Regions from separate parts of the Homo sapiens genome. Here region 2 is linked to region 1. The links come from fine-mapping of genetic effects on gene expression. Tissue or cell type: whole blood. Region 1 holds a variant in brackets; the other region holds the start of a gene. All regions are shown on one strand. Distances are between the middles of the regions.

The links. PIP is the estimated chance that this variant, and not a neighbour inherited with it, causes the effect.
Region 2: it holds the start of TIMP1, and the variant in region 1 is fine-mapped to the expression of TIMP1 in whole blood (TOPMed, PIP 0.93).

The regions. Positions count from the first base shown.
Region 1 is chrX:47,615,872-47,621,019 of GRCh38, forward strand. SYN1 (synapsin I) reads right to left here and starts at 3,986. Exons shown (of 13, transcript NM_006950.3): 1 at 3,481-3,986. The coding sequence starts at 3,857. RefSeq lists silencers at 3,999-4,293, 4,000-4,209. The variant G/C (reference allele first, on the strand shown) is at 1,989.
Region 2 is chrX:47,579,845-47,584,992 of GRCh38, forward strand. TIMP1 (TIMP metallopeptidase inhibitor 1) reads left to right here and starts at 2,592. Exons shown (of 6, transcript NM_003254.3): 1 at 2,592-2,630; 2 at 3,564-3,692; 3 at 5,092-5,148. The coding sequence starts at 3,572. All of the region lies in intron 5 of SYN1 (synapsin I), which reads right to left. RefSeq lists a cis regulatory region at 1-122 and silencers at 2,240-2,389, 2,450-2,549.

The sequences.
Region 1 (5,148 bases):
ACAGAGCAAGACTCCGTCTCAAAAAAAAAAAAAGAAAGAAAAACACAGGACAAAATTACCCACAAAATGGGGGAGATGAGTCTCAACTTAGAGTTTTCAACTTTAAACCACAGAGGAATTGAGACCCAGGAAGGAATGAGGGTGGTGAGGTTTGGTGGAAAAGGCGTCAGACTGTATTTCGGTGTACATTCCATCACAGAGTTTGCACAACTCCTGCTTTATTTGGGGCTGAAATCCCTGAAGCTAGTGTGGTTCTGAGTGTCTGCAAGTTGGTAAAACAGGTCTCTGTTCCCCACACTGAGCCTGGCGTACATACATAGGCTCTGTCCCTTTGTCCACCCCACCCCACATATAGTAGACACTAAATAAATATTTGCTAGATTGCCTGGAAGAAAAGACTGGAGGGGATGCTGGGATAAAGGGGGGCTTCTGAGATGCAGAAGGGGAAGGGATGGATCTTTCACTGAATTCAGCAGGTGCTCAATAAATGTTTTCTGGACAAAGAAAAAATGGAAAACATTGAATTTGTGATTATGGAAAGGGGAAGGGACTTGTCAGTATTCCATAGATAATAAATGCTTGATGGAAAGAAGGAAGCAGACGCAAAGGACCTGCATGGAGGGCTGGAGTGGAGACCGGAAGTCTAAAGGAGGGTGATTACCTATATCCAGCAGAGGCCTCATTGATGTTTGCTGACTTCAATGGAGCAAACTTAACCAGGAAGATAACACGTTGGTGAGTGGACGTTGGTGAAGGAATTACAGCACGTGCTCCATAAATGCTTTACAGATTGATAGAGAAAAAAGCGGAGAAGCCTGCTGCAGGGATGATAATGTGGCTGTTTGAAAATAATACAGTAAGAGATTAATAAGTGTTTTCTGGACTAATTCGGGGAGAAAAAGGCAGCTGGGGAGATGGCTACTAAGTGGAGGAAGAGGCCTAGCTAGAATAAATGGAAAACAGTGCACATTGTGAGCTTTCAGGATTGTGTTGTGTAAAAGGCAGGATGGAGATTGTTGAAGGGGGAATTGGGACTACAAAAAGGGGAGAAGAGGCATTTAACGCAGGGTTCTCAGTAGTATACGATAAATGCTCATTAAATGATTGTGGGGTTGCATGGAGGAAAAGGTATAGCAAGGCCAGCTGGCAGGTGAGGATTTCAAGCACACCTGCATTTAGAAAAAAAAGAAGGAAGGGGAGCTGAAGAAGGGTTATTCCTAGTATATAATGGTGCATAATAAATGCCTCCCACACTTTCATGGAAAGGATGCAATAAATATCTGCAGAATGAATAAATTGCTCTGAATGGAGAGAAAGGCTACTCGGTAAAGGCTCCTGGGGGAGAGGTAATCTAACCAGTAAACAGCTGGTACTCAATACATTTAGGCTGAAGTAGACCCCTAGAGAGAGAGCTCTTGAGGCAGGGTCAGGGATTTCCAGAGACTTGGAAAGAGGAAGTTGAAAGTGACTTATACAGTAAGTGCTCAATAAGTGTTTACTTAAATAGTAAAACTATTAAGTAAATAGTAAATTTAGTAAATTTACTAAATTTATTTAGTAAATTAAGTCAATAGTAAAACTATTAAGTAAAAGTGTTTACTTAAGTAAGTGTTACTTAAATAGACTAAAAGCCCTTTGGGGGTATGAATTAAAGTTGGTAGAGGGAATCCTAGGGGTACTGAAGGGAGTGGGAAAGGGGTGATCATTATAAACTCAGCTCTGGATTTATCACAGGAAAGGACCTTGGGAGAGGCCTTGTGATTGGAACAGGCTCTCCTAGGGGTAAGGAAGAAGAATGTACTCCCCAAAACAACAGGTCCTGCATATGTGCTCACTGGATCTACTGTTAAGAAAACAATTCTGGGGAGGAGGTGTGAATATACAGAACACACAGAAGACACTCCATAAATGCTCAGGGGAGCCATTGGAAGAAAAGGTCTTTGGGGGAGGATGATTAAAATGGAGCACATGACAGACAAGGAATAAAT[G/C]CTCACTGGATCCATTAGAAGAAAAGGCCTTTGGGGAGTGGGGCTGGGGATGGACATATAGTCACCTGATCAAGGCTCACTGCATCCCTGAAGGAAAAGTCCTATGGGGAGGGGAAATGGGAGTGCAGAAAGTTGATCTATGGGAGCTCGATTCTTCATCCATAGGAGAAAAGGCTTTTGTGAAGAAGGCACACAATCAGGTACACAGCAGGTGCTCCATAAATACTCCAAGGAGTGATTAAAAGAAAAGGTCTTTGGAAAGAGTGACTGGAATGGTACACACAGCAAGTGCCAGATATCTGAGCACTGTATTAACTGGAGGCACAGGCCTTTATGGAGAGGTCTAAGGTTGGGTCATGCAGAAAGTGCTCAATACATGCAGACTGAAGCCACTGGAGGAAAGGGTATTGCAGAAAGGGTTTGAGGGTGGGGTATACAGCAGGCACCAGTCAATGCATGCTTGCTGAATACACTGGAGGAAAGAACTTTTAGAGAAGGCTCACACTGCAGGCAGTTGATAAATGCTAGATGGATCCACCAAAGGAAAGGTCTTTGAAGAAGTAGCTGGAGAACGGGGGATACAAGAGGCACTCAATAAATGTTTTCTAGATCCACTGTAGGGAAAGGTCTTTGAGGAGACGGTCTGAAGATGAGTCACACAAAGAAGGTTCAAAACTGCTCATGGAACTCACTGGAGGAAAATGATTTGTTTGAGAAGGGGTTTGGGGGTGCGGCACGTATCAGGCACTTAACAAATGCTTCCTAGATCCTTTGGAGAAAAGGCCCTCAGAGAGAGGGCTTGGAGTTGGGGCACAGAGAAGGCATCCAATCAAAACTCACAGGATCCATGAAAGGCAAAGCTTTTGGAGAGAAGCTGGGGTGGGATACACAGCAGGTACTCAATGTTTACTAAATAGTTTAAAAGGGCTTTAAGGACGGAGCTGGGGTGGGACACATAGCATAGACTGGACACATGCTCACAAGACCCATTAGAGAAGGCCTCAGGGCAAGGGTTGAGGAGAACAGGACAGTATCAGGCTCTCAAAGAATGCTCACAAACCTCATTGAAATCAAAGGCCTTGGGGAAGGGCTCTTGGATGAGGCATACTGCAGGTACTAGATAAGTGCTCACAAGATCCATTAGAGGACAAGGCCTATGGGGCAAGGGTTGGGGAGGGTAGGAAGGACACGTTCGGTTTTCGAAGGCTCATAGGATATATTGAAGCCAAAGACTTTTGGGGGAGGGGTAGTAGGGAACAGGTACGCAGCAGGTGCCTGATAATTGCTCCCTGGATCCATCAAGGTTTAAGGGGCGGAGGGGGGCGACAAGGGCGGGGCACAGAGGAAGCATCCAGCTTAATAATTTAAAGGAAAAAGATTTAGGTGAGAGGGCCAGGTGTCAGGCACACAAGCGGCGCTCGATAATTGCTCATTCGCAGAAGAACGATCTGGGGACCCAGGCCCACGGGAGACGTCCGCGGCAGTGGCTTACCAGTCGGTGTGCGGCTCGTCGATGACCAGCAGCACCCTGGAGGCGGCTCCCCCGCGGCCTGCGCCCCCAGAGCCGCCGCCCACCTGCTCGCTGAAGGTGGCAGCTGCCGCCGCCGTGGTCTGCTTGACCGCGTTGGACAGCGACGAGAAGAAGCCACCGCCCCCCGAGGACCCGGGGCTAGGGGCGGCCGGAGAGGCCGCTGGGGCGACCCCGGAGGACCTCTCGGCAGTGGCGGTCCCGGGACCGGGCGTGGCTCCGGGGCTGTGGGCACCGGGCGGCGGTGGGGGCGGCTGCGGACGCTGCAGGTCTGTCATGTACCCATTTGGCAGATTGGCCATAAAGTTGCTGTCCGACAGGCGGCGCCGCAGGTAGTTCATGGCTGCGACTTGGGGCAGGGGGTCCTAGGGGTGGTCTGGCCAGGAGCCGCGGGGGCGGACTGCGCGGTGCCCAGGAGCACAGCTGCGCTCTCAGGCACGACACGACTCCTCCGCTGCCCACCGCAGACTGAGGCAGCGCTGAGTCGCCGGCGCCGCAGCGCAGATGGTCGCGCCCGTGCCCCCCTATCTCGCGCCTCGCGTGGTGCGGTCCGGCTGGGCCGGCGGCGGCGCGGACGCGACCAAGGTGGCCGGGAAGGGGAGTTTGCGGGGGACCGGCGAGTGACGTCAGCGCGCCTTCAGTGCTGAGGCGGCGGTGGCGCGCGCCGCCAGGCGGGGGCGAAGGCACTGTCCGCGGTGCTGAAGCTGGCAGTGCGCACGCGCCTCGCCGCATCCTGTTTCCCCTCCCCCTCTCTGATAGGGGATGCGCAATTTGGGGAATGGGGGTTGGGTGCTTGTCCAGTGGGTCGGGGTCGGTCGTCAGGTAGGCACCCCCACCCCGCCTCATCCTGGTCCTAAAACCCACTTGCACTCATACGCAGGGCCCTCTGCAGATACTCGGTTTGTAGTGTTGATATTCAACTCAGAAGGCATTTTTTGGGGGGAGGGGGGCACTGGAAGCACACTCAGAGACACGAAAGTAGAGAAATAACCCCCTCACAGAGGGGGGTGAGGTCACACGCAGTGCCCGCGGGGAGATTAGTCTCCCACATCCACACAGGCTCAGCTAGGCAGAGAGCGGGGGCGTCACAGACAGCATCAGACAAGCGGAGGTGGACACTTGGGTGGTGTACACACCCTTGCCCAAGGTGGCAAGGGGGGCCTGGAGGCACACAAGAAATGACACACATATAAACACACACAAAAGTGAGGAAACATACGAGGGCATGTACAGACAGAACACACGCCAATCTAGGTATACATACAGACATACAAGTCCAGAGTAACACACATGGGCATGTTACATACATGCATGCATACACCCATACCCCCACACACACAGGTAACACACTGACACACAGAGACCCAGGGAAACTCATATGAGCATACACTTGCAGACAAAACACATTCCCACCGATGATCATGGAGAAACCTAGATCTGCAACACAGACATTCTCTGCAGCCCTAGCCCTGGTGCGTGTCCACCCCCACACCAGAACACACTTGGTATATACGCCACCATCCCTTTGCTCTGGACACCGCCAAAACTCACGATAACTACCTGATGTCATCAGTGCCCATGGCTGTCTCCCCCTGCACCCAAGAACTTTCCACAGAGGCAGGCCCATCCCAT
Region 2 (5,148 bases), 36 kb before region 1:
TGTCGCCCCCCCACCCTCCCCCCACCACCCCGCAGCAGAGCCATTTCTTCATTCTCATTCCTGGGTAGGTCACTCAGCCCTTTTGTGTCTAAGTTTCCTCATCTGTATAATGAGAACATGAGCTATATCTAACTCACAGGGATATTGTGAGAAATAAGTTAGTTATTTTGGGAAAAATGCTCTACATGGTATCGGGCATACAGTAAGCCTCGATCCTCAAGAAGTGTTGGGTACTCTTATTATTGGCTTAACATCTCTTCCTTAACTAACATTAATGAACAAAGAGGCAATCGGGATTGATTAAATGAGATAATGTCTGTAAAAAGACTTTAGAACAGTGCTTTTTTTTTTTTTTTTAAATAGAGACAGGGTTTCACCATGTTGCCCAGACTGGTCTTGAACTCCTGAGCTCAAGCGATCTGCCTGCCTCAGCCTCCCAAAGTGCTGGGATTACAGGTGTGAGCCACCATGCCCGGCCAAGTGCTTTCTTAAAAAATAGATTTAGGCTGGGTGCCGTAGCTCACGCATGTAATCGCAGCACTTTGGGAGGCTGAGGTGGGCGGATCACCCGAGGTCAGGAGTTTGAGACCAGCCTGGCCAACATGGTGAAACCCCGTCTCTACTAAAAATACAAAAATTAGCCAGGCGTGGTGGCGTGTGCCTGTAACCCCAGCTACTGAGGAGGCTGAGGCAGGAGAATTGCTTGAACCCAGGAGGTGGAGGTTGCAGTGAGCCAAGATCTTGCCATTGCACTCCAGCCTGGGAAACAAGATCGAAACTCTGTCTAAAAAAAAAAAAAAGATTTAGAAGGCCGGGTGTGGTGGCTCACGCCTGTAATCCCAACACTTTGGGAGGTCGAGGCAGGTGGATCACCTGAAGTCAGGAGTTCGAGATCTGACCAATATGGTGAAACCCCCGTCTCTACTAAAACTACAAAAATTAGCTGGGGGTGGTGGTGGTGTGGCTGTAATCCCAGCTACTCAGGAGGCTGAGACAGGAGAATCTCTTGAACCCCGGAGGCGGAGGTTGCAGTGAGCTGAGATCGCGCCACTGCACTCCAGCCTAGGTGACAGAGCAAGACTCTTGTCAAAAAAAAAAAATAGATTTAGAGGGTACAGCTGCAGTTTTGTGACATGGATATATTACATAGTGGTGAAGTCTGGGCTTTTAGTGTCCCCATCAACCAAATAGTGTACATTGTACCCATTAGGCAATTTCTCATCCCTCACATTCCTCCCACCCAGAATAGTGCTGGATACGCAGTAAGCACTCCATAAGGGCTGCTGGTAGTTTTTGTTGTGTTCTTGTTATTGGGCTATCATCCCTGAGTTAATCAAACTTAATTAGCAAGGGAGTATGGTGAGTGAATGAGATAATTTATACAAACACTTTAGCACATAGTACACAGAAAGTGCTCAATAAGTGGCTGCCATCATCACTACAATTATTATTATTGATCTATCCTCCTCGAATTAAGGATGTTAATCAGAACCCCAGGGAAGGTTCCTGCATTGTCAGAAAGCTGGTGGGCAAGGATTGCCCCACCCCACCCCCCACCAGGGGTACAGGTCCATGGGGAGGGGGCAGGGCAGGATGGGGTGGGGATTAGTTTTCTACTGACCCACTCACTTGCTTCTTTCACCATCATTCATGGCCACCCCCTTCCCAATGCTCATTCATTCACCCGCACCATTCCCTGCTTGCTAGGACGGTGCCACTCCTGAGTTACAACCCTGGTGCCAGGTAGCCTCTGTTTGAATCCCGGCCATGCCCTGTGATCTTAGGAAAATTCTACAGTTCCTCTACGCCCCATATTTCCTCATCCGTAAAACGGGAATAAGAACCGGTACCCATCTCAGAGATTTGTTGTGAGCTTTGAGTGAGATAAACTATGCTGAGTGCCTGGTATACAGTAGGTGCTGTATAAATGCCGGCTATTTGCCTGTGTTATTTGAGACCCTGGCTTTGGCTCCTGGCCACCTGAGTTCCAGTCTCAGTTCTGCCATGTATTGACTCTGTGATCCTGGGTAAGTCACTTAACCACTCCGTGCCTCAGTTTCCCCATTTTGTATTCCTCCCCTTTCACCTGCCTTATCTCCCTCCACTGCTGCTACTTAATTTGTTTCCTCTCTGCCACCCCTCACCAGCATGTCAGACATACAAAACAAGGGATTTTTGTGTGCTTGGCACACAGTAGATGCACAATAAATGTTGAAGGGCTGAACTAATTTGGGTTTGAGTCATAGGGAGCTTGGGGGATGTGGGTGATTGGATAGATTCTGGAGACTTTAGGGGACTGGGCCGGGGGAAATGCGGCCTCTAAGCTCTCCGCTGAGGCGGCTTGGAAGGAATAGTGACTGACGTGGAGGTGGGGGAGGTGGCTGGCCCGGGCGAGGCCCAGGGAGAGGGAGAGGAGGCGGGTGGGAGAGGAGGAGGGTGTATCTCCTTTCGTCGGCCCGCCCCTTGGCTTCTGCACTGATGGTGGGTGGATGAGTAATGCATCCAGGAAGCCTGGAGGCCTGTGGTTTCCGCACCCGCTGCCACCCCCGCCCCTAGCGTGGACATTTATCCTCTAGCGCTCAGGCCCTGCCGCCATCGCCGCAGATCCAGCGCCCAGAGAGACACCAGAGGTAAGCAGGGCCCGGGGTGGCCCAGCAGGGACCGGAGCTGGGCTGCAGCTTGGGTGCTGGCCACCAGGCCCGTGCACTCCCGTGCCAGATGCCTGTCTACTCAGCTTGGCCTGCGGGTACCAGGACCCTGGGCTAGTCTAGGGGGAAGAGGGTCGGAGGCTGGAACTGCTTTCCCAACCCCGAGGCTCCAAACTCCCTAGAACCCCTGACATCCGCCCCCAATTCCCCCAAACCCATGACCCCCTAATATCACAAATGCTTTCCAAATCCCCCCGCAAATTCCTTCATCCCGAAATTTCCCTCATCGCCCCCTAAATACCCACCGCTAACCCCTGCAGCTCCCTAAACTCCCCCAGCTCCCCAATCCCCAGTTCCCCAGCTCCCAAACTTCTTTTGCCCTCAAATTCCTCAAGTATCCCCATTGCCTTAAGCCCCCAAATTCCCCCAACCCCTTCAACCTCCAAACTCCCCCAGCTCCCTAAACCCCCAACCTCCTCCAAATTCCTCAACCTCCCTAAATTCCCCCAGCCTCTTATATCTCTTAATATACACAACCCCTAAACTCTGCCGTCTCCAAACTCCTCCAGCCCCCAATCCCAAATTCCTCACCCCCAAACTCCTCAACCTCCAGAATTCCCCAATCCCCTCATTCCTCAAACTTCCTCAGCCCCCTTCTCCCCCAAGTGCCACAACCCCATAACCCCGCAACTCACTCAGTCCCTCAATAATTTAAACTCTCCCAACTCTCTAAACCCTAAATTCCTCTGCGCTCCCCAATCCCCTTAAAATCCCTAAGCTTACCAACCCCTCAAGCCCAAATCCAGCCCCCTAATCCCCCCCATAGGCTGCCCCGGGGCAAGATGGGGTGGATGACCTGCCCAGGTCAGCAGATCAGCTGGGCCGGGGCCTGCCTGACATCCCCCTTCCCCACAGAACCCACCATGGCCCCCTTTGAGCCCCTGGCTTCTGGCATCCTGTTGTTGCTGTGGCTGATAGCCCCCAGCAGGGCCTGCACCTGTGTCCCACCCCACCCACAGACGGCCTTCTGCAATTCCGACCTCGGTGAGTCCTCACCCCACTCAGCCCACACACTCTGCCTTGGTTTCCCTTTCAGTCCAGTGGGGCTCACCATGGCACTTACCTCTAGAATGATTCCACTCGCCCCTGCACTTCCTCTGCTTTAGCCACACTGGCATCCTCACACTTCCTTGAGTACTCTGTGCCCAAGCCCACCACAGGATCTGCATGCTGGCTGCTCCCTCTGCCTGGTACACTTTCCCCCCAGGTATCCACATGGGTGGCTGCCTCAAACGTCACCTTCTCAGGATGGCCTTCCCTGGCCATCCTGTTTAAAATTTTAACCCCTGCCCCTTAGTACTCCTGATCTCCTGTTAAACAGAAAAATATTCAGTGATACTTGTTATAACACAGTAAGGAAGACCATATTCAGGACCATGGTGATGGGTATAGGAACCACTGCAATGGGATCTTGCAGTCGGTGGGAGAGATTGGGCTCAACACTGAATATAGCATGGGCCAGTGGGAATGTGTAGCTAAGGAGCAGTGTGAGGGTCTGTGGGTGGAAATTACTAAGAAGAAACATCAGGGGTAAGGGGGATTCTGGCTAAACCGACGTAACAGGATTCTTGCTGAAGGCAGGCCAAGGGGAATCAGACATCACCTGGGGGATGGTGGAAGATGAAGAACCCAGTCAGATAGCAAGGATGATCAGGTATTGAGGATGATCAGAGATTGAGGATGATCAGAGATTGAGGATGATCAGGTATTGAGGATGATCAGAGATTGAGGATGATCAGGTATTGAGGATGATCAGAGATTGAGGATGATCAGGTATTGAGGATGATCAGAGATTGAGGATGATCAGATATAGAATATAGGGGTTCTTGCTAAACTGACTTAGCAAGGCTCTCGGCTAAAACTGGATTTTACAAGGAAGTGCACAGATGGGCCTAGGAGGAGGTTCAGGAGCCTGAGTAAAGTTTGGTCAAGCAAAGAATCTTTGTCAGCCCCTTACCCAGGTCTGTAATTCCCCATTATACTTAATGTCTAACATTCCATATCCTTATTTTGTTTGTTCTTAGCCTGTCTCCTCCTGGCTAGAATGTGAACTCCACAAGGAAAGGGATTTCTGTGTTTTGTTCACTGTTGTGTCCCTAACACCCAGAACAATGTCTGGCACACAGTGGGCACTCCCAAATATTTGAGGAGTAAATGAACAAATCAATGTATGAAAATGGCTTAAGCAGTGCCCGGCAAAGAGAGACACTCAACATACAGATGAATCAATGAACAAATGTGTAAATCACTTTGTGTGCTGTCTGGCATCCAATAACCCCTATTTATGTATGCGCTTTGCTGGTATGATGATGATGATGATGATGATCTTATTTTTATTGGCTCATGCAGTCCATTTGACTCATATTTCCCTCCTCTCCTGCAGTCATCAGGGCCAAGTTCGTGGGGACACCAGAAGTCAACCAGACCACCTTATACCAGC